Regions from separate parts of the Homo sapiens genome. Here regions 2, 3, 4 and 5 are each linked to region 1. The links come from fine-mapping of genetic effects on gene expression. A gene starts in region 1. Each other region holds a variant in brackets. All regions are shown on one strand. Distances are between the middles of the regions.

Region 1 (5,134 bases):
AATTTCTTAACTTTTTGTTCTCAGATGTCAAATACTTACCTAGAAACTGCCACTCATTTGGTTGCTATGAGTTTTAAGATCAGTTAGCAGGTTTTTTTTCTGTCTTTCAGAGAATTGTCATCTTGGGTTCTCCCTCAAGGTAGTGAAAGTTAACTTTGTTACCCATCTGGGGATTTATAGTACTTATACTAGAAGATGCTCCAAGGTTTCAGAAAGGAATTAATTACTTTCAATTTGCACAATTTAGAACAAATATCTGGCTTTTCCCTAAGCTTAATGATTTTCCATTTCACACAACTAAAATATAATAGCATTATTTTATAATCAAGTTTAACTGATGGTCTATGATAGTAGAGCGATTTAGTATTTTGACAAAAATCTTATGAGACATGAAGTCATTCAATTTGCAGCCCCAAACTGAAGCTCAAACACAACATTTTAAAAGTATTTTCTGCCTATACCTTTGACTGCATGCTACTTTAAATAGAGGGACAAGACTAAATGGTCTATCTGGTTGTTCTTACACTTTATAAAGAGTCAAAAGCAAATTTGAGTTATAAATATGCACATCATAGTGATCATTATTTTATCACAAATAAATATTGATTTGCTTAATCAAAGAGAATACTCTCCTAGAATAAGAGCAGTATTTCAATCTGCAAACATGTTTCTTAATGTCACTGAGCATTTAGCCTATCTTCACACACACATTTCATAACCTTTCAAGGACAATCTTCTACATCACATTTTAAGGAAATACACTGAAAAAGCAATCCATTTTGCAATAGCATTTTACATTACTACAAATTCACGAGGTTCAACCTTCAATGCCCATGTACCTTTCACAAAACTATTGATCATTTCCTATCAATGCTTTACAGGATTATATCACAAAGGAACACATAATGCATGTATGTGCATCAATGCGTAAAGGAGAGGATGCATTTCTGTGCATAGTATGTGAACTGACAATGCCCACTTGCCCAGTCCTTGCTTTACTCAACTTCTTACACATCATCAGCCAGCTGCCCTGTTGATGATTCCTTGCACCTTATGCGCTGCTTTATCATTGAGTCAGATTACTACCATTTCTGGTCCAGAACTCATTAAGAAAAGTCCTTTTTCAAGCAAGGTCTTTGAAATGTAGTTGTACACCTATAAAAGAACTATCTGGAGCTCATCTTGAGAGAGAGAAGATGAATTTATCCTCTGTCTTTAGGCTTTTACTTACAGAGCCACACCTTTATAAACAAGTTCTGTCTGTCATACTGACAGGAAGGAGATATGCAAAATGTAACATCTGGAGTCATAAAATATAATGACCTCAAATAACATTCCAGAAAGAGAAAGGAAAACTAGTTCTGGTTAGGGAGAAGATAAAAGAGGAAAAGGAGTAAATTTACATCCTTAAAACAAGAGTAATAGAAAACCCTACCGGGTTTTTCCAGTAAGTTTTGTGCAGCAGCAGCAACAACCTAATCAATATGTGCTTCCTCACCCTCTTGTCCCCAAAGAGAAACTGCTGGGCCCCTCTCCACCGACTCCCCAGGAGCAGAAACTACTGCCCCCAAGGAAGGGAGAATTCAGAAGCGTGGGGAGGGGGAAAAACAGGTATATGTGGTTCTAGCATCCTCATCTTCATATCAGCTACCAGCCTGAAACTACATTCAGGAACCAGGCTCCCAGACATTCCCCGGCCCTGGGCCCTGCCTGAGCGCCAGAGAGCTTGAGGAGCCTGCAGCATAGTTCTCAGACCCGAAACAATGACCTCCCCCGTCCAAACCCAGGCACTCTTGCGCCAAGGCCCTAACCTCTCAGCGAGACCTCTTTGGGGAAGGACAAGAGATGCTGCCTGATGGCCGAGAGAAGACATGCCAGGCTTCTCTGCCAGAATGAGTTGTTGAGGGTGGGATGAAGGTGGTCAAGGAGATGGGCTCTTTATTTTTAAAACAAAAAACAAGGCAACCGGGACCACCAACATCAGTCACCCTCACTCCCCACCACTGCCTCTATTCCTTAAGGACTTCTTCCCAGGCCGGCGGCGGCGGCGGCGGCGGCGGCGGCAGCTTGCGATCATCAGGATTGGAAGTGAGAGCGAGTGCCCGGGCCAACCTCAGCGTCTCTCAGGGACAGCGCAGGTGGGCGCAGCCTTGGAAGGTCAGCGAGGCCAGAGCTCAGAGTTCCACGGGGGCCCGGAGAGTGTGCGTGTGTGAGTGAGAATGCGAAAACGCGCGCGCGCCGGGCAGAGGGGCGCTCGGCGAGAGGGTAGGCGCGGTGACAGGGGTACCCCAGCAGCCGAGGAGAGACAGCCCACCCCACCCTTTAAGCTAAAGAGCTGGAGGGGTGATGGAGGCTGCAAGACGGAGAAACTTGATGCAAAACAGACAGGCTCCCCCCTCCAAGACGTGCCGCCACGCTCTCAGACACGCTCCCTCGCCTCCCGGATTACCCACCATCAACCACCCCACCCTGCAAAATTCCCCCACCGAGCCCTAGGATCCCAGGCGGGTAATTACCTCTCCCGGAGGCGGAGTGGGGGGCGGCAGCAGCAGCAGACACTTTTAGCCTGACTTTCCTGCGTTCGCTTGCGAGCGTGTGAGCGTGTGCGCGCCCAGGAGGAGCTGTAACCTGCTATTTATAGACCGAAGCCTCAGTACCCGGGGCTGAGAACCCGGAGGAAACTAGCAGGCGGCGGCGACGGCGCAGGGCGCCGGCCGCGGCTTCGCGAGGCTCCAGCAGCTCCCCCAGCCTCTGGCTTCGGCCGCGCTCCCTGCTCGCTCCTCGCCTACCAGCCCCGCGCGCGCCCCAGAGAAGTTGTCACCAGCGCGGCTGGCTCTCCGGCTGCTCACACGCCCCCTGGCACAATTGCTACTTTCTTCCACCCCAACCCCCACCCTCCCCGCTCCTCTTCCTCCTCCTCTGCTCTCTCCAAGCGGTCTCCTCCCAATGTCACCAGCGACCGAGTAGAGGCGGCCGTGGCAGCGACAGTCGCGCAACTGGCGCTGCTCGCTTCCCGCTACTGATAGAGCGGAGATGGTGGCCCGGCTGCCCACCCCGAAATTACCACGCTGGCTCCGTGTGCTCACACCCCGTACCCCGACCCCTTTCTGCGGCCCCTCTGCCCGCTGGGTCGCCCACCCAGACTGGGCTGTGGGATCACCGCTACCGCGACGAGGGGGGACCCGAGGCCGCCACGCTGCTGCGGGGGCAGGAGAAACCACAGAGAAAGAACCCGCGGGAGGAAGAAAGCGCCCCAGACCCCGGCCTATGGCAGCGCAGTCCCTAGACCGAGGGTTTTTGGAAGGGGCTTGGGATCCCTGCTGTCACTGCCTGCGTCTAGGCATCCATTCACGCCTGCTGGACCCCAGTCTGCAGCCGCGCTGGGACCCCTGTCTCTTGCCCCTCCTCCCCCTTGCCCCGGGCAGAGGTCGGGCTGAGGAGACCAGCTTAGAGCAGCCCTCGGCCACCCACCGCCAGTTCCCACGTCGCGGCGGGTGACTGAGGCCGAGATGCTCCCAACTAGCGTATGACATGCCTTTGATATCCCGGGTGCGTGGGGACAAATCCGCCCTGAATGTGTTGGGGTATCAGGAAAACGGGGTATGTAAGCAAGCAGTCTGGACGGAGACTAAAACTCCCCCACTTCCTAGCCCCTAACAAGCCCACAGGGGAAAGCACGCACCCTGGTTATTCCGGGCTGTGTAGGGTGTGGGGCAAATGACTCTCCCCATCTGCGCTTTACAGGTGCCACCTGGCGGCTCTCTCGGAAAGGTTTTGATGGAGCCGTTCAAAGGTAAAGGTGCCCAGAGCCAGCCCATCAAGACACCCCAGCCCTTCTCCCTGAGGGCGCTTTAAAATCACATTTTAAGTAAAGCAGTGTACGAATGCTTGTACACAAGTGTTACATTTGCCATGCAAAAAGACTGGAATCTCAAAGTCAGGACAGTGAAATCAATTTGGGTTAAGTCGGGGCTTAACAGTTTCACAAACCAGGAAGCTGTATGTACCCCCAGCTGTCACCCCTGCTGTCACTGCCCGCATCTAGGCATCCTTTCACTCCTCAAACCTTTGACCACCACATTATAAGCCTTGCCAATGAGGACAGGGACTTTGGGTTTGTTTTGTTTTGTTTTGTTTTGTTTTGTTTGGTGGGGGGAGTTGTTTGTTCGTTTCATTTATTTTTTTCATCACTCTGCTCCCAGAGCTTGGGACAATACCTAATATTCTGTAGTTTCAATAAATGTTTATAGAATCAAATAATAAACACTATAGGCCAGAAACTGCTTGGCGCCCCCGAAGCCCTTCCTTTTGCTTCTCTTCAAGCTTTTTCTCCTATGCTCAGCCTCTACCCCAAGTGAGCTGAATGCAGAGAGATAGGAGAGTGAGGAACAAATAATCCCTGTCAAGATGTGGATCAGCTTTGAGAAGCCTTCACACAGTTAGATTTCTCCTCCATGGGGCAGCACTGAACACACCCATCTCCAAGCAATGGGTAAGCCGTGTTCATAGAGATCTGCTGGAAAGATGATACAACTTTCTCACTGGGCAGTTTCTGATTTTTCTCACAATAGAGAGAGATTGAAATAATATCAGGACATTAGGATGTCAGAGCTTTGCTACTAAATTGGAAATATGGTTAACATATCTGTCCTCTAAGTGGAAGAGTGTGTGTGTGTGTGTGTCTGTGCGTGTGTGTGTTTATGAAGACTACAGCAGCAATGCCAGAAATACCAAACCATACCTCCTAAAAGACTGAGTTGTAAAATAAATGCAGTTACTGATTCTATGGAAATGGACGTTTAAAGTGAGATGCTTAGAGGACCCTATTATAATTAAAGTCCAGACATGGACCATGCTGACAAAGTCCTTTTACAGGGCGGCTGAAGAATATGTGACTTACTTGTGTACATCACGTAGGAAGTTTGAATTCTCAGAAAAGAGAGAATATGAATCAGGATGCCATCAGATGCATGTACCACAAGGCATTTTTAAAAATCCATCAATCATCCTGATATTTACCTTTTTTAGTTATTTGGTGGCTTTTTCCTTGAATAAGCCTGGAGGATTCAGATGCTTCCGTGGTTTAATAAACTCATTCAGCATTCACTTTTACAAACCTTGAACTTTTGCTGAC
Region 2 (5,134 bases), 190 kb before region 1:
TGCTTCCTGTGTGGACCTGGGATTTGATCACCAGGTGGGAAGTGCTCTAGTGGAGAGACTCTGGCCAGTTTGCCCACTTTTCTCCATTCTCACCCAATAGAACCCTGTTTTGCTCACCCTTTAAACTGTCTGTGAGCCTAAATTTTCATAGCTGGGAAACAGATAAGAATCCCGTCTGTAGCAGAACTAAGGAAAGTCCTGCATCATTTTTGGCGCCCAACATGGGGCTCGAGAAGTGGTGAATGAAATGGGGACACAAAACCTCTCACTGTTGCTTCTAAGCCTTTTCATCCTGGGACTTCTGACAGTGGGGAAAACCATACCCCTACCCCCTGTGGATCCTGGGCCTTTTCATGGCCTTTTCCTTCCTTTTTCGGGACTCACTGCTGAGCAGCAGCTCCCTGCTTTGCTGGGGCTAGGATGCATGGCCTAAGGATCCCGCACAGCTGGCTGGCTGGTCCTAACCACTTCCCGTTGCAGCAGTCTTCCCCTTCCTTGGCCAAGGGGTGTAACTCTATTGGACAGCAATTAAGCTTAAACTTGTCTCCCTGGTGGAGGAACCATTTGCACAAGAATAAGAGGCTCTTCCCCAGGAATTTTTAAACTGCTTTTTTGTTCTTTCTCCTTCTCTACCTCATCAACAAGTTAGCCCTTAAAGATTTTTTTTTCCTTTTAGAAGATGTTTTTACTGGGTTAGGCCCCCCAACTATCACTGTTTGTACTCTCTGTAAAGTTTTGGTTGTGGAAAAGGATTTGTGGGACTAGTCTTTGGCTGTGGCCAATCTGGTGTGCTTTACACGTCTGTATGGTTTGTGTTGCAAGCCTCCATCTTGCTTTACATCCTGGGGGCATGGCCAGTAGCCACTTGGCAAGGCTTTGTTTCACAATCCTGTCTGAGGGGATGAGCCCTCTCAGATTAGACATCTGCATGTTTTCCTAGCCCTGTCTCTTAAAGGGCTGCACCCAGTGACTGGGTGGTCCTCTGTGTGTGTACTGTGTGTGATATCTGTAAAAAGAGCTCTAATTAATTTGGCCTAAAGAAAAACAAGCGCTTGGATCTAACATTTTTTAGAGGGAAGATAAAAGCTGTGGTATCCTTCAGTTCACATGACTTTAATCTTTAAGAAATATAAACAGCCCTAAAGACCACTGGTAAAATTCAGGTCAGATGCAAGGTTTGTTAAGTGTTTTGAGGTTACAAACTGCTTTTTGGGTTTTGAGATCTATTTGACTTGTCAGCTTCACAACTGGTAAGGTGTGGACATATGGAACTAATCACACCCTTAACTAAGAATGCAAACCTTGGCTGCACTTAGCACACAAAGCAACTTACCAAGTTTTATCTTAAAGTTAAAAATTGCTAGGAGTTAATTGAAACTACTAGAAATAGATTTACATGCAGGGTGTGTAAGAACAGTAAAATGTGTTTTTTAGTAAAAGGTTATAAGAAGGCTTGGAAATGTAAACTTTTGCCTAGGGTTAAAGAATTGTTTTGAGTTAAATTAGGAAAAAGCTGAAGGTTCAAAGAAGTGGTGAAAGAACTGTGGAAATTAATCTTTCAGAAGAGGTTCTTTGTGTAAACATATTGACTAAATAGGTTATAAAATGTTTTTGCTGCTTTAAAATTTCTGAGTCATCATTTTGGAAAAATAAATGACATGGTAATCTGGAATTCTATTTCATAATATCAAGTGTTTTAAACCTGGAAGATATTTAACGGATTCTGAAAATCAAATTTAAGTTTCAAAATTGTCTTTTTTGACACCGGGCTTTTCAATTACTTCGGAAGGCCCCTGAAGTGTCCAAAAAGAGAGGTAAATAGGATCATTTGACATGTTTAGGTACATAGGATTGCCAAAATGTTATTCAATCTTCTTAGAAAATAATGTTCACATATGTTCCAAAATTGCATGGGATTTCTAAAATCCTGATGTCTAACGATATGCTATCAATCATAATTAAGGTTATGTTAAGTTATTGTAAACCATGAAGATAACCAAATTTGTCAATTGTGTTTCTAACTGTAACTCACTGAACATTTTGCTCTTCACAGACAATTGTTGTCTTGCTTTAATCCTTTTCAAAAAATGGTTTATAATAAGCTATAAAACTGTAATAGGTGCTCTTAAATACAGGCTTCTGATAACTTTGGATATTGTAACATTGGAATACAGGAAAATGTACAGGACTCATGAAGAGCTGAAATGTTCACAAATATCAAGTAAAACAAGGGCTAACTAAATGGACTAAACTCAGAAAACTAAAGCAACCTTTTTGACTTTTGGTTTAAATATTGCTGATCCTTGTTCTGTTTTTCATAGTCAAGGAAACTTATTTTGAATGATTTACAGCCTTTAAGAATTAAGCAAGGTATAATCCTGTGATCAAGATATGGAGCATGTTTGTTTGTCTCTGCCTGGTTCCTCTAGAATTTTGAAACTATCTGTGAGCATTCTTAACTTACGGCATTACAGTTGTTTGCATCAGTGCAATAAGAATCCATTTTTCTTTTGCAGCAGGATGCAATTGGAAGAATTGGTTATTTTACCAAGGCTTTAACTAGAAGGGTATGCTTCCCTTTAAGTAGACGATCTTGACTTGCAGAGCCAATAAAAGCCCAGTGGGGAAACTGGTCTCATACCTCATCTATGCAGTCCCTGTACAGGGTTCCTGACCTGTGGTCAGTAAAGAATGTCACGTTCTAACAGTTCTAGGAGGTCCAAGTTTATCGACCTTAAGAGGACAGAAGCACCCAACTCACAGGTGTTTGAAGATACAAACCCATGGTTGGGCTTGGCTTTAAAAGTTCTTATCTGAGACTCCTTGTGGAACAAAATCCCATTAAAGCCAACCCAAAAGGCGTATGTAGAAATAATCATTCTTGCTGCACTTTATGCAAATAATCAGGCCAAGTTTAAGACTAAATTCTATTTTGCAAACCATTCAGTCCTATAATTTTTTTTTTAACAAAAATGAGGACTGGGCAGGGCACGGAGGTTCACACCTATAATCCCAGCACTTTGGGAGGCCGAGGCGGGCAGATCACCAGGTCAGGAGATTGAGACCATCATGGCTAACACGGTGAAACCCCGCCTCTACTAAAAATACAAAAAAAAAAAAATTAGCCAGGCGTGGTGGCAGATGCCTGTAGTCCCAGCTACCCC[G/A]GATGCTGAGGCAGAAGAATGGCGTGAACCCGGGAGGTGGAGCTTGCAGTGAGCCAAGATCACGCCACTGCACTCCAACCTGGGCGACAGAGTGAGACTCTGTCTCAAAAGAAAAAAAAAAGAGGACTGGAGAGAGAGAAATTATGTTTCAAAACTTATATATTGGTCACTAAATTCTAAACTCATTAGTTGTTTTTAATTTTTTGCCTACATTTGAAACTAACCCTGCTTGTTCCTATGAACCAACCAGCAATCTCTAGCTGCAGCTCAGAAACAACATGAGGGATGGGTGATGTAGAAATCCTGATAAATATTCTAGTTCTGAGTAATTATCCTTCAAATCCTGCCAGGTGATGGGAATAAATAGGATGCCCATCACTCGGAGGTTTCCTTTTGGTAAAGTAAAACCAAGGGAGCTAACCAAAGCCAAGCACCATGCACCCAAATCTTAGCAAGCATAACTATAGCAAACACTCATCTGGGTGTCTCACAAGACATCCTTTCCTCTCCCTTGTTGGAGGAGGACTCAATTCCACAGCTTCACCTTGCATTCGGCTTATGATAAGGCATCCATGCAACCCCACCCCCACCCGTGAGATACAGTTTTGTCCCAGACTCAATTCTAAGCTTTGGTTCAAAGCCCTAGGAAGGAAAACTGGATGTTAAGGATCCAGAGGCAGATAACAACAGAGGTTAAAAGGCACCGAGCAGGTGAGTGTGGCTGATTTCTGCCAATTAAGCCAACCCCAAGCTTCCTGTTTCATGGATAAAGACCACGTTAATATCCATAGCATAAATGAGGTCTAGGGAACTCCAAAGCTACTGACATTAGGTGGGAAAGAGACATAGGTGAGAACAGATAATTCCTTTTCTCTAGCCACCCCCTCCCCATCCCCCACTTCATGGGTACAAGCTGCTTTGCATGGCGAGACCTGCCAAGGTCACCAGGACTTGGGGATGCAAGGATGGAAGAGGGAAAGAGGATGCTGTTCTCTCTCTCCCTCACTTACCCCTGGGTATCTGCTAGGAAGAGAAGGGAACTAGAGATGGCTACTCCCCTCTTTCTAGATGGGTAGCCATTCATCTTCAGTCTGTACCCCTTAAAATGTATCCTGAACCCCTGGAACTCCTTTAAAAGGCATCTTCTTTTTATTCCTTTCTCCTCCTTGGTTCTCTCTTCACTGATATTTAATTGTGTCTCTGTACTATGGGACACTCCCCTCAGATGCATTTTCCAAACAGGAAAGAGTTAATTTCCCAAAGCTGAAACTGGTTGCCTTAGGACTGGGCCCAGGGGAAGGAAACCCAGAAGCCCAACATGCCACCAAAAGGGTAAAGATTTTAACTAGTCAGGCTTTTGGCCTCCCTCTCTCCATGCAAACTGGTAAAGGGCCTCAGGATTTTTGAGCTGTCCTTACCCCTCCCCTTGTTTCACTTTGATACATGTTTTCTAATAATTGGGTTTGTCTGTTCTTACCTTCAGGCCATCAAACTCCAAACAGTCATGCAACCAGAGCCTCTGAAGATGGCCCCTTCTGCCGGGAACCCTTAGATCAGCCTCTGAGGGAGTTCTGCCATTTCCCCAAAACAGCGCCCCCTGTCAGCAGGAAGCGGTTAAGATCAGTCTTCATCCTTATCCTTAATCTAACCACAGTTAGATGTACTTCTTTAGAGGGGGGAATGAGACAGCCAGTGGGAGGGGATTCCTGGAGAAACTCCAAGCAGCCTGCGCACTGGGGTGGAGCCTTGGGAAGTTCACACGATTTGAAGCAGGGAGGAGCCTGCCTCGTCGTCTTCCTGTGTGGACCTGGGATTCAAACGCCAGGCAGGTGTTTCCCCCACCCGTTTTTCTCCCTTTTCACCCAATAAAACCCTATTTTGCTCACCCTTTAAACTGTCTGTGAGGCTAAATTTTTGTGGCCTTGGGATGGACAAGAACCCAGTCTTTAGCTGAACTAAGAAAAGTCCTA
Region 3 (5,134 bases), 320 kb before region 1:
ACCAATGAATTTAAGATGTGTATAGCATTCAAAAATATTTAAATGAATCAATTATTTAAATACAATGGTAAATTGGACTTACACTTAATATAGTTTTAAAAGGGTTAAGTTATTTTACTCTGAGAAATTATTGATGATATAATTCTGAGAAATCTGATGCACTGAATTTTATCTACTACCCATATATTATTAAAGTATAATTTCTCCTCAGATTATTTGAAAATATTTGTTGAAATAAATGAATGAATAAATGAAGGACAGATGTCTACAGAAACAGGTCTGGCAAAGTTTTGGCATAAATATATTCCATTTGTTTGAAAATAAATACCATTGACCTTATGATCTTTGTGTTCCTTAGATTTGCTTTTTAGTGCCATATAAAACTGTGTGCAAGGGCAATTTTTATTACTTCTCTCCCTTGACCCCAAACCTACATTAAGTATGATGACCTACACAATAATTTCTCAGAAAAATCAAACAAACCCATCAAAGTATTACTTTTATATCCATTATATGTCTACCTAAAAGGGAATAAGACTTTGGTCTCGGTATCAAAGAGATGAAAAATATAATCAGGAAAATTAAGTTAAATTACATGAAACAATTAGGGAAAATTAAGTGCTGTGATGTATAACAGCATTTCCCAAAATATCCATGAGTTGTTAATAGATGTTTCATTAAGACAAAAATAAAAGGATTCCATGGTAAAATAAGATTGGGAAATATTTCATAGCACATTATCCTCTTGGCAATTCATATTTCCATTAGCATATTAATGATGGAAAAGTTTTGCAGCAAAGAAAATTCTTGTGTTTTAACCAAGAATATCCAAAATTTATTTCAACCCATGAAAAACCTTTGTTAAATTTTCTATTTTTAGCCATAAAAAATTTCAAAAATCCTGAAAAGTGAAGAGAAAAAACTACAACAAGTACTGGCCACATTAATCTAACAGGCATTAGCACTTTGCCATATTTGGTTCAGATTTTTAAAGCTACATAATAATGAAACATCACTTATACAATTAAGGCCATCCTGACCCCTTTTGTTTCCTTCTTCCTTCTTCAGAGATTACCAGTAGTCTGAAATTGGTATGTATTCTTCTTGTCCATGATTTTATACTTTCGATTCATATATTTGTATTTACAAATAATACATAAGATTTCTGTGTTTTAAACTTAAAAAATATCATTTTGTACACATTGTGAATTAACTAGTCTTACTAGTCTTATTCAATATTTACATTTATGTGGTATATCTATGATAATGCATATAGAATTAGTTCATCTGCTTTAACTGAGAAATTGTATTTGTATAAATAGAGTCCACAAAATACAAGTTAATTTGTTTGGTATTGAGAAATAATTTAAAAGCACAGAGTGGTGAATTAACTAAAACATTCTTCATCCTAATATCTGTATCACAACAGTGGATTAGAATCTTGCCCTGTCACTTGACTGGCTGTGTGCTTTGGGCAAGTTATTTCTCCTCTACTGGATTCAATATGCATATATGTAAAACAATGACAATATTGCCAACTTTTTTTCTTTATGATTTACCTTTGATTTTATTTACCATTTCTTTTGTTGCATTTTTAAAGGTTTTTATGTTTATCAATTTTTAAAGTTTGTATTTCAGTATCTTATGTTTTCTTCTAAAATTTTCAGTTTTATTTTTCAAATTGAGAATTTTATTCCATCTACTATTGTGTCATGTAGACATTTACTTGTCCCAGGAACATTTCTTTCCTTCTTTCCCGCCCCCGCCCCCCACCCCGAGACATGAGATTTCCCTATGTTGCCCAGGCTGGAGTGAAGTGGTTATTCACAGGCATGATCACAGAGCACTGCAGCTTTGAATTGGCCTCAAGACATCCTCATGCATCAACCTCCTGGGCAGCTGGGACTACAGGTAATCAACACCACTCCTGGCCTTTCCAGTGATATTTCTTGGTTAATCTATCCCTTTGGTACTGAGTTCCAATGCTATATCATCATATGCCAAGTCTGTATAATAAAGGGGATATCATTAGTAGATGAGAGAAGGGAGACGGTTTACTATATCACCTGCTTAATCATACAAGAAGGGCTGCCTGAAAGAAGTGGTGGCCTCAGGTGGCATCTGAATATAGGTTGGACACAATAAGAACATGGGTTTTCATGTCAGACTGACCTTCATTTATATCCTTTCTGTAATACCCATTACAAGTGAATTAATCTTACTACAAATGAATTTCTTCACCTATAAATGAAGCTAATACAACTTATCTAATAGTATTATTTAACAAGCTACTATATTTTAAAGTGGCTACCACAGTAACTTGCATGTAAAGGGTGTTCAAAATAGTGGTATTGAAATCATGTGATTTCTTGTTGCTAG[T/C]AGCAGTCATGTCTGATTAGTAGCTGTGAGTTTGAAAAGAAAAGATGGAATTCCAAGGAAAGCAAAGGTAAACTGGAGCATCGCTTGACTAGAAAGATGAGAATTAGAGTTGATTCCAAGCTGTGGTTTGGAGGACAAGATATAACAAAAATTGAAGGTAGTAGTTTAGGACAGAGGTTCTCAAAGTTGTTCCAGCATGAACAGCAACAACAATTACTGAAAATTTATTACAAACGCAAATACAAACCCCAGACCTACTAAATCAGAAACTCTGACTCTGACGTGTGGACCAACAATTCATGTTTTAACTAGCCCCCAGATAATTCGAATGCATACTCAGGTTTGAGAATGTGATGGAGCATGTTTGGAGTATGATGAGTGGGAGGTGATGCTGAGACACAAGGTGAACATGATGTAAGAGGATTATCAGAACTGAAGATGTACACTTGTCATGCAAAGGGCTGAAATTCTTCTTTTCTGATGCCTTTACTTGCTTTCAGTTATAGGTTTTATTTTGCTGAAAAGCTTCCCAATCTCAGAATAATTTCTCAGCTTTCAAATTCTCCTTGCAATCCACCTACTTGGCAAAGCAAGGCCAGGGTTGTAACCCTTAATCAGTCTCCACTCTTCCCACAATGTCCCTCCTGCATTGCTCTCCTCCTGCTTTTAGCTTTTCTTTTTTCAATAAAAGTATGTATTATTTTTTCTTTTATTATTATACTTTAAGTTTTAGGGTACATGTGCACATTGTGCAGGTTAGTTACATATGTATACATGTGCCACGCTGGTGCGCTGCACCCACTAACTCGTCATCTAGCATTAGGTATATCTCCCAATGCTATCCCTCCCCCCTCCCCCCACCCCACAACAGTCCCCAGAGTGTGATGTTCCCCTTCCTGAGTCCATGTGATCTCATTGTTCAATTCCCACCTATGAGTGAGAATATGCGGTGTTTGGTTTTTTGTTCTTGCGATAGTTTACTGAGAATGATGATTTCCAATTTCATCCATGTCCCTACAAAGGACATGAACTCATCATTTTTTATGGCTGCATAGTATTCCATGGTGTATATGTGCCACATTTTCTTAATCCAGTCTATCATTGTTGGACATTTGGGATGGTTCCAAGTCTTTGCTATTGTGAATAGTGCCGCAATAAACATATGTGTGCATGTGTCTTTATAGCAGCATGATTTATAGTCCTTTGGGTATATACCCAGTAATGGGATGGCTGGGTCAAATGGTATTTCTAGTTCTAGATCCTGAGGAATCGCCGCACCGACTTCCACAATGGTTGAACTAGTTTACAGTCCCACCAACAGTGTAAAAGTGTTCCTATTTCTCCACATCCTCTCCAGCACCTGTTGTTTCCTGATTTTTTAATGATTGCCATTCTAACTGGTGTGAGATGGTATCTCACTGTGGTTTTGATTTGCATTTCTCTGATGGCCAGTGATGATGAGCATTTTTTCATGTGTTTTTTGGCTGCATAAATGTCTTCTTTTGAGAAGTGTCTGTTCATGTCCTTTGCCCACTTTTTGATGGGGTTGTTTGTTTTTTTCTTGTAAATTTGTTTGAGTTCATTGTAGATTCTGGATATTAGCCCTGGGATGCAAGGCTGGTCCAATATACGCAAATCAATAAATGTAATCCAGCATATAAACAGAGCCAAAGACAAAAACCACATGATTATCTCAATAGATGCAGAAAAGGCCTTTGACAAAATTCAACAACACTTCATGCTAAAAACTCTCAATAAATTAGGTATTGACGGGACGTATTTCAAAATAATAAGAGCTATCTATGACAAACCCACAGCCAATATCATACTGAATGGGCAAAAACTGGAAGCATTCCCTTTGAAAACTGGCACAAGACAGGGATGCCCTCTCTCACCACTCCTATTCAACATAGTGTTGGAAGTTCTGGCCAGGGCAATCAGGCAGGAGAAGGAAATAAAGGGCATTCAATTTGGAAAAGAGGAAGTCAAATTCTCCCTGTTTGCAGACGACATGATTGTATATCTAGAAAACCCCATTGTCTCAGCCCAAAATCTCCTTAAGCTGATAAGCAACTTCAGCAAAGTCTCAGGATACAAAATCAATGTGCAAAAATCACAAGCATTCTTATACACCAATAACAGACAAACAGAGAGCCAAATCATGAGTGAACTCCCATTCACAATTGCTTCAAAGAGAATAAAATACCTAGGAATCCAACTTACAAGGGATGTGAAGGACCTCTTCAAGGAGAACTACAAACCACTGCTCACTGAAATAAAAGAGGATAGAAAGAAATGGAAGAACATTCCATGCTCATGGGTAGGAAGAATCAATATCGTGAAAATGGCCATACTGCCCAAGGTAATTTACAGATTCAATGCCATCCCCATCAAGCTACCAATGCCTTTCTTCACAGAATTGGAAAAAACTACTTTAAAGTTCATATGGAACCAAAAAAGAGCCCACATTGCCAAGTCAATTCTAAGCCAAAAGAACAAAGCTGGAGGCATCACACTACCTGACTTCAAACTATACTACAAGGCTATAGTAAGCAAAACAGCATGGTATTGGTACCAAAACAGAGATATAGATCAATGGAACAGAACAGAGCCCTCAGAAATAACGCCGCATATCTACAACTATCTGATCTTTGACAAACCTGAGAAAAACAAGCAATGGGGAAAGGATTCCCTATTTAATAAATGGTGCTGGGAAAACTGGCTAGCCATATGTAGAAAGCTGAAACTGGATCCC
Region 4 (5,000 bases), 520 kb before region 1:
GTAGATCTACTTTTAGTATGTTAAGGAATCTCTGCACTGTTTTCCATAGTGGTTGTACTAGTTTACATTCCCACCAGCAGTGTAAAAGTGTTCTCTTTTTACCACATCCACACCAACATCTATTATTTTTTTGATTTTTTAATTGTGGCCATTCCTGAAGGAGTAAGGTGACATCACATTGTAGTTTTGATTTGCATTTTCCTGATAATTAGTGATGTTGAGCACTTTTTCATAGGCTTGTTGGCCATTTATATTTCTTTTGAGAATTGTTTGTTTATGTCCTTAGCCCACTTTTTGATGGAATTATTTGCTTTTTTCTTGCTGACTTGAGTTCCTTGTAAATTCTAAATATTATCCCTTTGTCAGATGCATAGTTGGCAAAGATTTCCTCTTTTCTTTTGCTGTGAAGAAGCTCTTTAGTTTAATTAAATCCCATCTATTTCTCTCTGTTTTTGTTGCATTTGCTTTTGGGTTCTTGGTCATGAATTATTTGCCTAAGTCAATGTCGAGAAGGGTTTTTCTAATGTTATCTTCTAGAATTTTTATGATTTCAGGTCTTAGATTTAAGTCTTTGATCCATCTTGAGTCGATTTGTGTATGAGGTCAGAGATAAGGATTCAGTTTCATTCTTTTACATGTGACTTGCCAATTGTTCCGGCACCATTTGTTGAATAGAGTGTCCTTTCCCTACTTTATGTTTCCCTACTTTTGCCTGCTTTGTTGAAGATCAGTTGGCTGTAAGTATTTGACTTTATTTCTGGGTTCTCTATTCTGTTCCATTGTTCTATGTGCCTATTTTTATACCAGTACCATGCTGTTTTGGTGGTCATAGCCTTATAGTATAGTTTGAAGTTGGGTAATGTAATGCCTCCAGATTTGTTCTAATGAAATTTTGGATTTATTTAGTATATGGTTAAGAGAAAATAAAGCAACATAGCTAACATTAAATCTTCATTTACTATTTTAAGGCCAGCAAACATGTATCAAGCACATATTATGATTCAGCCACTATTATAAGCACTGGCAATCTCAGAGAGTAAGAGATTAAGAAGACAAGGTATATTTCGTTGATACGCAATAACAATGGCATGGTAAGAGTCAAACATCTAATAATAATTGCTAAGAATCTTCAGCTTTCTAAAATCTATCAGCTAGTCTTAGATAACGGTTTTCTAGTTGTTTAATTTTAATCTTGCATGGAGAAAATGATGCATGTACAAACCTAAATGATTTAGGTCACAGAATCTTAGAGATGCAAGGAATCTCTCAGTTAATCTAAAAAAAAAACTAGGCAATATGAAAATTATATCTGAAATATTCCTGGGAAGTACATTGAACATTTCTTCTTCAACATTTGGAATTTCTAGCTTACTATCTCACAAATCAGTATCATAACGGTAGTGTTACAAACTCACATGCCCACAGGCTCCAGGTAGGTAAAATTAATGAAAGGAGTGGCCTGGGTGTTTGAGACAATAGGAATTGGAGAGGACTCTGGCAAAATGGAATCACATTTCTAGTCTATAAGAAGTGACAACTACCCAGCTTCAACGGATTGAAAAAATTCTGAGAAATATTCCTTCAAATATTAACAATGGGTAAATATTAATTCTTTTGAAAGTGGGCTATTATTACCATATGCTGATTTTTACCAGAAACATGCTTTGTAACTAAGGTGAGTGGGCCAAAGCAAGCCCACTACTATTTTAGTAAAATTAGTTTTTAAAATGTGCTACCCTAAAACAGTTGTTATTAACCTTGACAACACAGTAGAATCGCCTGTAACATGTTTTTGGTTTTGTGTTTGTTTTAAATGCCAATTCACAGGTCACACCCCAGAATAATTAAATCAGAATGTCCAAGGGAAGGACCCAAGCATCAGTATTTTTAAGGTGAATACTCCACTTGATTCTAATGTGAAGCCAAAGTTAGAGTAAAGAACTATTGCTATAAAATAAATGAGATTACTTTTTGGTAAGAATGAGCCTCACAAACTAGCTCTAAGTCCTATGAAGAATCTTAAAACACATTGTGCCATGTTCAAGCCATCAAATATGGTTCCCTTTGAAAAGGACACACAAAAAAAGTTAACAGATCATCAGAGCTAGAAGGCCCTCAGACATTTTTAGGAAACGTTCCTTAAATTTTAGTGTGCATACTCATCCCCTGCTGGTCAACAGCTGGTCAGAAGGATGGTCTCCAGACCATTCTCTAGAAGTCTGTTAGAAATGCAGTATCTCAGGCTTACCACAGACACGTGCATCATAGTGTTCATTTTGGTAAGATTCCCAATTCATTTATGTGTACATTAATGTTTGAGAAGCTCTGGTTTGGAAGAATGCTCATGAGTGAAATGGGTCATAATGAGAACAGGTCTTCATTGCACCTAAACATGCCTGAAATAGAAATGAGGTTCATTATTACGGTTATGATGACTTTTTTTTTTTTTTTTTTTTGAGACGGAGTCTCACTCTGTCGCCCAGGCTGGAGTGCAGTGGCACGATCTTGGCTCACTGCAAGCTCTGCCTCTCGGTTTCACACCATTCTCTTGCCTCAGCCTCCCCAGTAGCTGGGACTACAGGCACCCGCCACCACGCCTGGCTAATTTTTTGTATTTTTAGTAGAGACGGGGTTTCACCAT[G/T]TTAGCCAGGATGGTCTCAATCTCCTGACCTTGTGATCTGCCCGCCTTGGCCTCCCAAAGTGCAGGGATTACAGGCGTGAGCCACAGCGCCCAGCAGATCTTTTTTTTTTTTTTAATGTCAAGCCACTGTAAAAGCTCCAGATGATACCTTCCAGCAGACAGGTGCCCCCTTTTTATGTGAGGCAAATGGCAGGTAAGGTGAGGGGTAGGGAGTCACTCTTCAATCAAGTCAGAGATTGATCTGGGACAGAGCTGGGCTGGAATTGTTGGTACAATTCAGTGTCATTGGCTGAAATGTGTTTCTCCAATATTCATATATTGAAGCCCTTACTCCCAAGTAGCTCAGAACGTAATTATTTGAGATAGGGCCTTTACAGAAGTGATTAATTTAAAATGAGACCCATGGGTTAGGGTGCTAATCCAATGTAACTGGTGTCATTGTAAGAAAAAGAGGAGATACCAGAAAAGCTCTGCCCAGAGGAAAGACCATGCAAAGAGGCAGCAAGAGGGCCACTGTCTACAAGCTAAGGAGAGAGGCTTTGGAGAAGCCAACCTTGCCAGCACCTTGATCTTGGATTTGCAGACTCCAGACCTGTGAGAAAATAAATTTTTGTTGCTTAAGCTACCCAGTCTATGGTATTACTTATGCGTAGCCCTAGCCAACTAAGATTCTAAGTCTACCTGTGTTATCTGGTATGGCCCTCTGTGTTTTCAACCAACAGCCTGACTGGCCTTTGCTTCTCAGCCCTGAAAAAGTGGATATTGTTAAGACATTCCACTATACTTCTTTAACATTATACCTGACACAGCCTCAGAATCTGACAAAAGTCTTTAGAGGGAGACCAGCCATGAGTTTGAATCTCTTTTGGACTCCAAAACTGTCATTCCAACTATGCATGAAAACCCAAATCTCTGCTGAGTGTTATGCCTGCCAGTTGCCACCTTCTGTTTGGCAAAACCTTGATATTCAGACTTCTAGCCACAGGGAGACTCTGTGAATACCTCCAGGTGAAAAACGGCTTTTTAGTTTCTCAGTGTCAACTCAGCACTCCCCCTAGGGCATCTCTTGCCTGTTGTCAGTTTCTCTCTCTAGTTTCCCAAGCACTGTGAAACTATGGGGACTTTCACTTTGCTTTTTGGAAGCCTTTGACCTGGTTCTCCAGCCTTCTGCAAAGTGTCAGAGTTCACCAAGTCTCTTCTGAGAAAAAAATGGCCACTTACTTGAGGCCCCTGAAGTCTCCATTTCTCACTTCATCCAATACAACTGCTGAAAGCTTTTTTGATTTCTCTTTCTCCAAGCAGCAGCTCTCTGTCTAGGCAAAGGCCTACTCCTCAGTCCACTCTCAGAGTCAGCAAATACCCCTAGACAAAAATCATGGCTCCCGATAGCTCAGCGTTGAAAGGTTCTCCTTGCTCTGGAAATTTGGTCTCTCTAGTTATTTTTGCTCTGATAGCTTAACGGTGCTTTCAAACATGTGATTTTTGCAATCAGCCTAGCTTCTTTTCTAGGTGTTGCCAGAAGGAGCAGTGCTTGTCCCACCTACCACATCCTACCCAAACCGAACTCCTTAATATCCAGAAAAGTTATTGGTAAGCTAAGAAATCTTCCAAACATGCGGTCAAGGGATGAAAAATGATATTCAACAGACTATGGTTATATGTAACTGGAGAGGAAAAAATGCCATTTAAATATTGGTCTGTCTGTTGAGTTACGTTTTTGACAAACTGGTTACAAATGCATAATGACAGGTGGTTCCTTTGGTAAGACTAGAGCTTACTCTGCAGCCTAAACACAATCCCAATTAACCAACTTGGATAAACAATAATTGTTGAGTGGGATATGCTATCTTGGGTTTTACTCACTAAATGCGATCATCTTTCAAATGTCAAAGCACACTCTACCAAATTATGTATACAAGTTCATTCTATAGGCTTCCATGCCAAAAAGAAATACTAGTTAAGACAAATAAAAGCACTCTTTTAGTTTGGATGCTCTAACCTTAGATGTTTTCCATTTCTCTAAAGCAGTGATGTTCACACCACAGCTCCTAGTCACATGGGTCTCTTTATGTTTAATTGGTGGCGCTTTAAAACTTCTAATTTCTCTATATGAATGCGCCATTATACTAAATTCTACCAGTCATACAGGACTCATGTAGTTCTTTAGGTTAATAGTGACTGCAAATGTGGCTCCAGAGTCATATAATTCTGAGTATCCCTGCCATTACCCACATTTTATTCCACTTCCCTTTCCGACTATTATAGAGATCTATTACAAGCAGGTGAAAGAATACTGAATGGCAACAATATCTGTAGACATCACCTTCCTTTATCAGAGAATCACTGAAAGATACAGGAT
Region 5 (5,134 bases), 150 kb before region 1:
AAAATGCCTTTTTCTAAAAAAAAAAAAAAAAAAAAAAAAAAAAAAAAAAAAAAAAAAAAAAAAAAAGCCTGACATCTTTAAGGAACTCTCCATTTGTAAGGGTGTCTGCTTGCATACATTAAACTCTTAACCATTATTTTAAATTTATAAGCTATACCTTTATTTGAGGTGCTTTTCCTCACCTTCTTAACTAAAATTTACTTACATGATTTTTTTCCCTTGGTTTGAACAAGTGATGGTACAATATTCAGGCCTAATGTCTTCACGCTATGCTTTCAAAATATCAAAATTCAAATGATATATGTTGTTTTATCTTAGCTGTTCCTTTAGAAATGCAAATTTAAGGTTGCCTAGCTAACAATAACTGAGAGCAAAGAAACAGATAATCAAGAAATTGACAGTCTAAAGTAGGAAGAAAAAGCCTTGAAAACTGGCAAATTAAAAATATCACAAATTTATAAGATCTGCTTCTCTCTATGTGTCTATATGTCTACTTAATTACACTGGTAATATGTGATGTCTTACTACTAAAATAAATAAAAGGGCTCTAATTTATTGGTTTAAAGAAAAAGTAAGTGCTTAAATCAAGCATTTTATTAAAAATTTTTTAAAAAAGAAAGCTGACTGGGCATGGTGGCTCACACCTGTAATCCCAGCACTTTGGGAGGCCGACGCAGGCAGATCGCTTGAGGTCGGGAGTTCCAGACCAGCCTGGCCAACATGGTGAAACCCCGTCTGTACTAAAAATACAAAAATTAGTCAGGCATGGTGGTACACGTCTGTAATCCCAGCTACTCAGGAGGCTGAGGCAAGAGAATAGCTTGAACCCAGGAAACAGTGGTTGCAGTGAGCCGAGATTGTACCACTGCACTTTAGCCTGGGTGACAGAACGAGACTCGTCTCAAAAAAAAAAAACAAAAAAGAAAAAAAGAAAAAAAAAACCCTTTAACTCAAATGCCTTTTAGTTCACATGTCTTTAATAATCTTTAATAAATAAAGCTAATTTTAAAATTATTGATAAAGTAAAAATGTCTTCCAAATTAGACATTTGGTCAAAACTGGTCAGGCAGGTCAGATACTGTCTTTGCTACTTGTTTGAAGGTTATAAACCACTTCTGTAATATTTTTTAGAATTGTTTAACTTGTCTGTTTTGGAGGCATTTGATTCTAGGCTCTAAACTAATAGGCAGGGTAAACTATGCTGGGAAGGGTCAGACATTATCTGCAGCTTCGTCCTTTGTGGTGAGCTCCGCATCTGATACATAATTAAAATTGCACTAATTTTTCAGTGAACCCTTAGAGGGTTCACGCTGAGAAGAGCCTACAGCCCCTACACTTTCCCTTAACATTTTTGAAAAATATATTTGCTTTTACTGCATGTATAGGGAGAGATATCAACTAAAAAGTCCCTCAGAAAAAATATTTTCTCTACTGGGAGCAAAAACATAAGAAAAACCACTTTCTGGTTTAAAAACCCTACCTGTCACTATTGATCCAGTAATAAAATAGGGTCTTGTGGTGGGGGTAGGGGTATTATTCTGCACCTATAAAGTCAAGGATATTTGCACAAATAGCAACACAAGTTAATGTGCCTACAACACCTTCATAATCATTCACTTTTTTTTTAGTATTAACACTTATTCCCATGTAGTAAAATTATAAAATTATGTATAAATTCTACAAAACATTACCTGACAAAATAAGTTCCCTTATGGAGACATCAAGATCACTGACCCTATTTCAGAATAGCATAAAGATAATAAAGTTCTAAAACTGAGTTTCAACAATGACCCAGGAACTGAAGGGTCCCTAATATGAAGCTAATTCTCAAACAGCCTTGCCAAAGTTAAAGCAAAGATTCTGTTAGCCAGAAATCCCAAAACAAACCTTCTGCCAAATTGAATAGCAATTTTGTTTCCCTAAAAATAAAAATTTTTAAATTAATACATAGAAGTGAGTTTTAATAATGCCAAAAATATTATTTCCTA[T/A]GTAAAACATCTAAATGTCTTAGTTCTTACTGTGCTTTTCAAGCAAAGGATAGAATGTAATGCAGCTGTCACTTCCCTAATATAATTATCTGAAAATTATCAGTTTATTTTTAAAATACTATGCATAAATTTATGATGAAAATAACTAGTTGAAAGAAAAATAAGATGTTCCATCATGTTGTTAGCAGCATGCCTCAAAGGCAGGAACCTACCCAACAGATACGATTTAATAAACTGTGCAATAGAATTTAAATCAGTTATATAATGCTCATTAAGACAATGACAGTGCTCTATCCAACAGAGCACTAAGTTACTACAATCAAATCTTAGTTGTCAGGCATAATGCTTGAAGGAAATAAAAATATTTTACCCCAAAATATACTTATTTGGCATATTTTAAGATGGATATCCAGAGGGCTACAAATTCCCCTCAACCCCTATAGGCTCAAGGCAGTGTTTCTTATCTTGATGTGGGATCTCAAGGGAAAGGCGGGCCAGGATAATCCAAAACCTAGACACTGTGGATCAGATGACAGATCAAGTTCAAGGAGAGCCAGCTGGGACTAGGAGAATTAGACAGGTGCCCCTGGATTGAGCAAGAAAATGTTGAGTATTGACAAAGTTATCAGACGAGGAAAGGTTAGAAAGGTCCCAGGAGCCTAGAAGGGCAGTGTTTACAGTCCAGGAAGTCAAATAATGACACCAGCATATTCGATGGATTAAGGCACACTCTGATTCTAAAACAGATCATTTCCTCTGTGCCCTTTTCCATGTGTCTGATAAGACAGAGAGTGTGCCTGGTCCTACTAGCATTTATACCATCCTCAAGGGGCCAGAAAGCCCCAGGAGAACTTTCCAAGAGATCCTCATGCAACAACCCACCTTGTTCCATAACTGTGCCCAGCAGCTCAAGGGAACAATTATAAACAAGGATACCACCCCCAAAGAGTAATAAAATCTAGCTGAGGGGACAAAATATACACAAACATCAGTGCAAGGCACTAACTGACCCAGGCTGTAATTCTGTGGTACAGATACTCCCTTTCCCCACCCCAGCCCTGACATCTGTCTCCTACACAAACTACACCTTCAGTGCTTGCCCAACTTTGTTGCTTACTTCACTGCTTACACCCACTTAAACTGGGTCATCCTGGCATCTGCAGTGCCCACTCAACCCTGCGTCCCTCTGCCTTGCCATCAGCTACTACTTATGTTGTTCTCCAAACATTTCAAAACCAGGCACTACACAGCCATCGACTTCTGATCCTAATTCACCATGTCCTTTACAGCCAGCCAGTAGAGAGGCTCAGTAAGAGGGCAAATTGGATAACACCAAGGCTGTCCAAGAAAAGCAGGTTTATAGTTCCATTCTTTTATTGTAAAATTACTTATTAAATTACTTCCCTTTGCATGTTTTACTTGTTTTTATAACAGTGCTTTCCTCTAGCAAGGAAGTAGATAAAACCACAGTGTGCAGCCCCGCACACTCCACTGTATGTGTTTATTCTTAGAATGGTAAGTCAGAGAGAGTGGAACACTGGCAAGCTTTCACCTGCTTTTAGTTTAAAAGGATGTCAGTTACAGTTTATTATCCCAATGATGCATTTTTAAAAATTCTTACAATCATATTATATACATGTGATGTTGATGTCAATCATAAGCAGCCTAAGTTACATTGTTATTAAAATTACCTGTTGTACAATGCTTCATATTTTCCAGGAAAAGGAGACATTTAAATTATATGGTTTTGGTGAAAACACATCGGTAACTGAACATGGGATGAACAACCTCTATATCATTCTCCCTTTTAATACTGTTAGGCTTTCCCCAACCCACACCAATGCCATCAACCTTGCTCCCAGAAAAGCTACCTAAATTCTCTGAGTTGCCATTCATAAAAACAGAGTCTGGGATCAACTGTGAAAGTGAATTATATACATGAGTGAATAAATCAAAATAATACTCTAACGAAATAGGTAAGCCAAGTTTATTGTTTCTGGCAGTAGGCTTTAACCATGTGATAATGTTCTGTTGATTTTCTCTTAAAAATGTCATCCAATTACATAAAACTGTCAATCAATCTTAATCAAACAAGATTTGGACAATGGATTCTTGCTGGGCTTTTCTATATGATTAAACGATAGGAACTTATTTGCTTTATTACTTTATATGGCCAAAGCATATACTGGAAACCTACAAGAAAAACAGGAGACAAAGGTGAGCTACAAGCAAGGAACTGAAGAAAATGCAGCCATGGAAATTTCCCAATATCATGAGTTATTCAGATTTCCAAGCTGGATCAAGTAGAAATCCTAGAACATGAGGCATGGGTAAAAGTTCTTAAATAGGGCCAAGACATTACAAATCCCTTTCTAGGCCATGACTTACTTAAATCACATTTTGTTCCTGTATTCATATGTAAATAACAATAATAATAAAATCCTTATCAGATAAACTCAGAGTTTTAAAGACTACATTTGAGAATTTCAAATTCCTAGAATACTGAATATTTAACAAAACAAGGGCTATAATTTAAGGTTAGCTTCTTATAATATGAAACATGCTTGAATTTAAAAAGAGTATAATGCAAGAAGACTGGCTGTGAAAATTTTAAAATTCTAATCTGCTTATAAAACACTCAAGCTGAAATAAATCTTGGCTGTAATTAAGATAAGTAACCACAGCTATAGGGCTACTGTTAGCATGAACATGCCCTTACCAGTAAGAGAAAACAATTAAGTTACAGATCTTACAAGTTATAAACAATTTTTTTCTGAAACAAATCCATCATTTTTATTGATTTGAAATCAATAGAGTTTTCATAAATTATTTCTCATAGAAAAAAAGACATACGAGATTAATTTTTAAATCTTAGCACTGAAAGGGTAGGTCACCATTTCTCCTTCCAGTGTTATTCTTGTCATAACTATTTGAGATTTCAATATCCACAGATATGATCTTGCCTTTTGTCTTAAATGATTGTCTCCACTTTATTAGGACTATTCATTTTCATTACCAGACCCTAGATCTTGTCACTACCAATATCTGGACTTTCTGCAGATCTCAATCACAAGCATCTCATTTCCTAATTTTTCTAACTCCCATTCTGTGTCCAACAATCTTTAAGCTGCATCAGGGTCTACTGA

Evidence for each region. PIP is the estimated chance that this variant, and not a neighbour inherited with it, causes the effect.
Region 2: its variant is the best candidate, but not a certain one, in a credible set for the expression of INPP4B in blood mononuclear cells (TOPMed, PIP 0.78).
Region 3: its variant is the best candidate, but not a certain one, in a credible set for the expression of INPP4B in nasal epithelium (TOPMed, PIP 0.77).
Region 4: its variant is the best candidate, but not a certain one, in a credible set for the expression of INPP4B in rectum (CEDAR, PIP 0.51).
Region 5: its variant is the best candidate, but not a certain one, in a credible set for the expression of INPP4B in whole blood (INTERVAL, PIP 0.87).

What each region holds. Positions count from the first base shown.
Region 1 is chr4:142,843,693-142,848,826 of GRCh38, forward strand. It overlaps INPP4B (inositol polyphosphate-4-phosphatase type II B), which reads right to left and starts at 2,609. Exons shown (of 26, transcript NM_001101669.3): 1 at 2,517-2,609. The region is part of intron 3 of USP38-DT (USP38 divergent transcript); the gene reads right to left. RefSeq lists an enhancer at 3,366-3,952.
Region 2 is chr4:142,656,136-142,661,269 of GRCh38, forward strand. The region is part of intron 2 of INPP4B (inositol polyphosphate-4-phosphatase type II B); the gene reads right to left. All of the region lies in intron 2 of LOC101927613 (a long non-coding RNA gene), which reads left to right. Among named protein-coding and RNA genes, the nearest start is that of INPP4B, 190 kb to the right of the region's middle. The variant G/A (reference allele first, on the strand shown) is at 3,165.
Region 3 is chr4:142,520,577-142,525,710 of GRCh38, forward strand. The region is part of intron 2 of INPP4B (inositol polyphosphate-4-phosphatase type II B); the gene reads right to left. Among named protein-coding and RNA genes, the nearest start is that of INPP4B, 320 kb to the right of the region's middle. The variant T/C (reference allele first, on the strand shown) is at 2,380.
Region 4 is chr4:142,321,008-142,326,007 of GRCh38, forward strand. All of the region lies in intron 7 of INPP4B (inositol polyphosphate-4-phosphatase type II B), which reads right to left. Among named protein-coding and RNA genes, the nearest start is that of INPP4B, 520 kb to the right of the region's middle. The variant G/T (reference allele first, on the strand shown) is at 2,642.
Region 5 is chr4:142,693,469-142,698,602 of GRCh38, forward strand. The region is part of intron 2 of INPP4B (inositol polyphosphate-4-phosphatase type II B); the gene reads right to left. Among named protein-coding and RNA genes, the nearest start is that of INPP4B, 150 kb to the right of the region's middle. The variant T/A (reference allele first, on the strand shown) is at 1,989.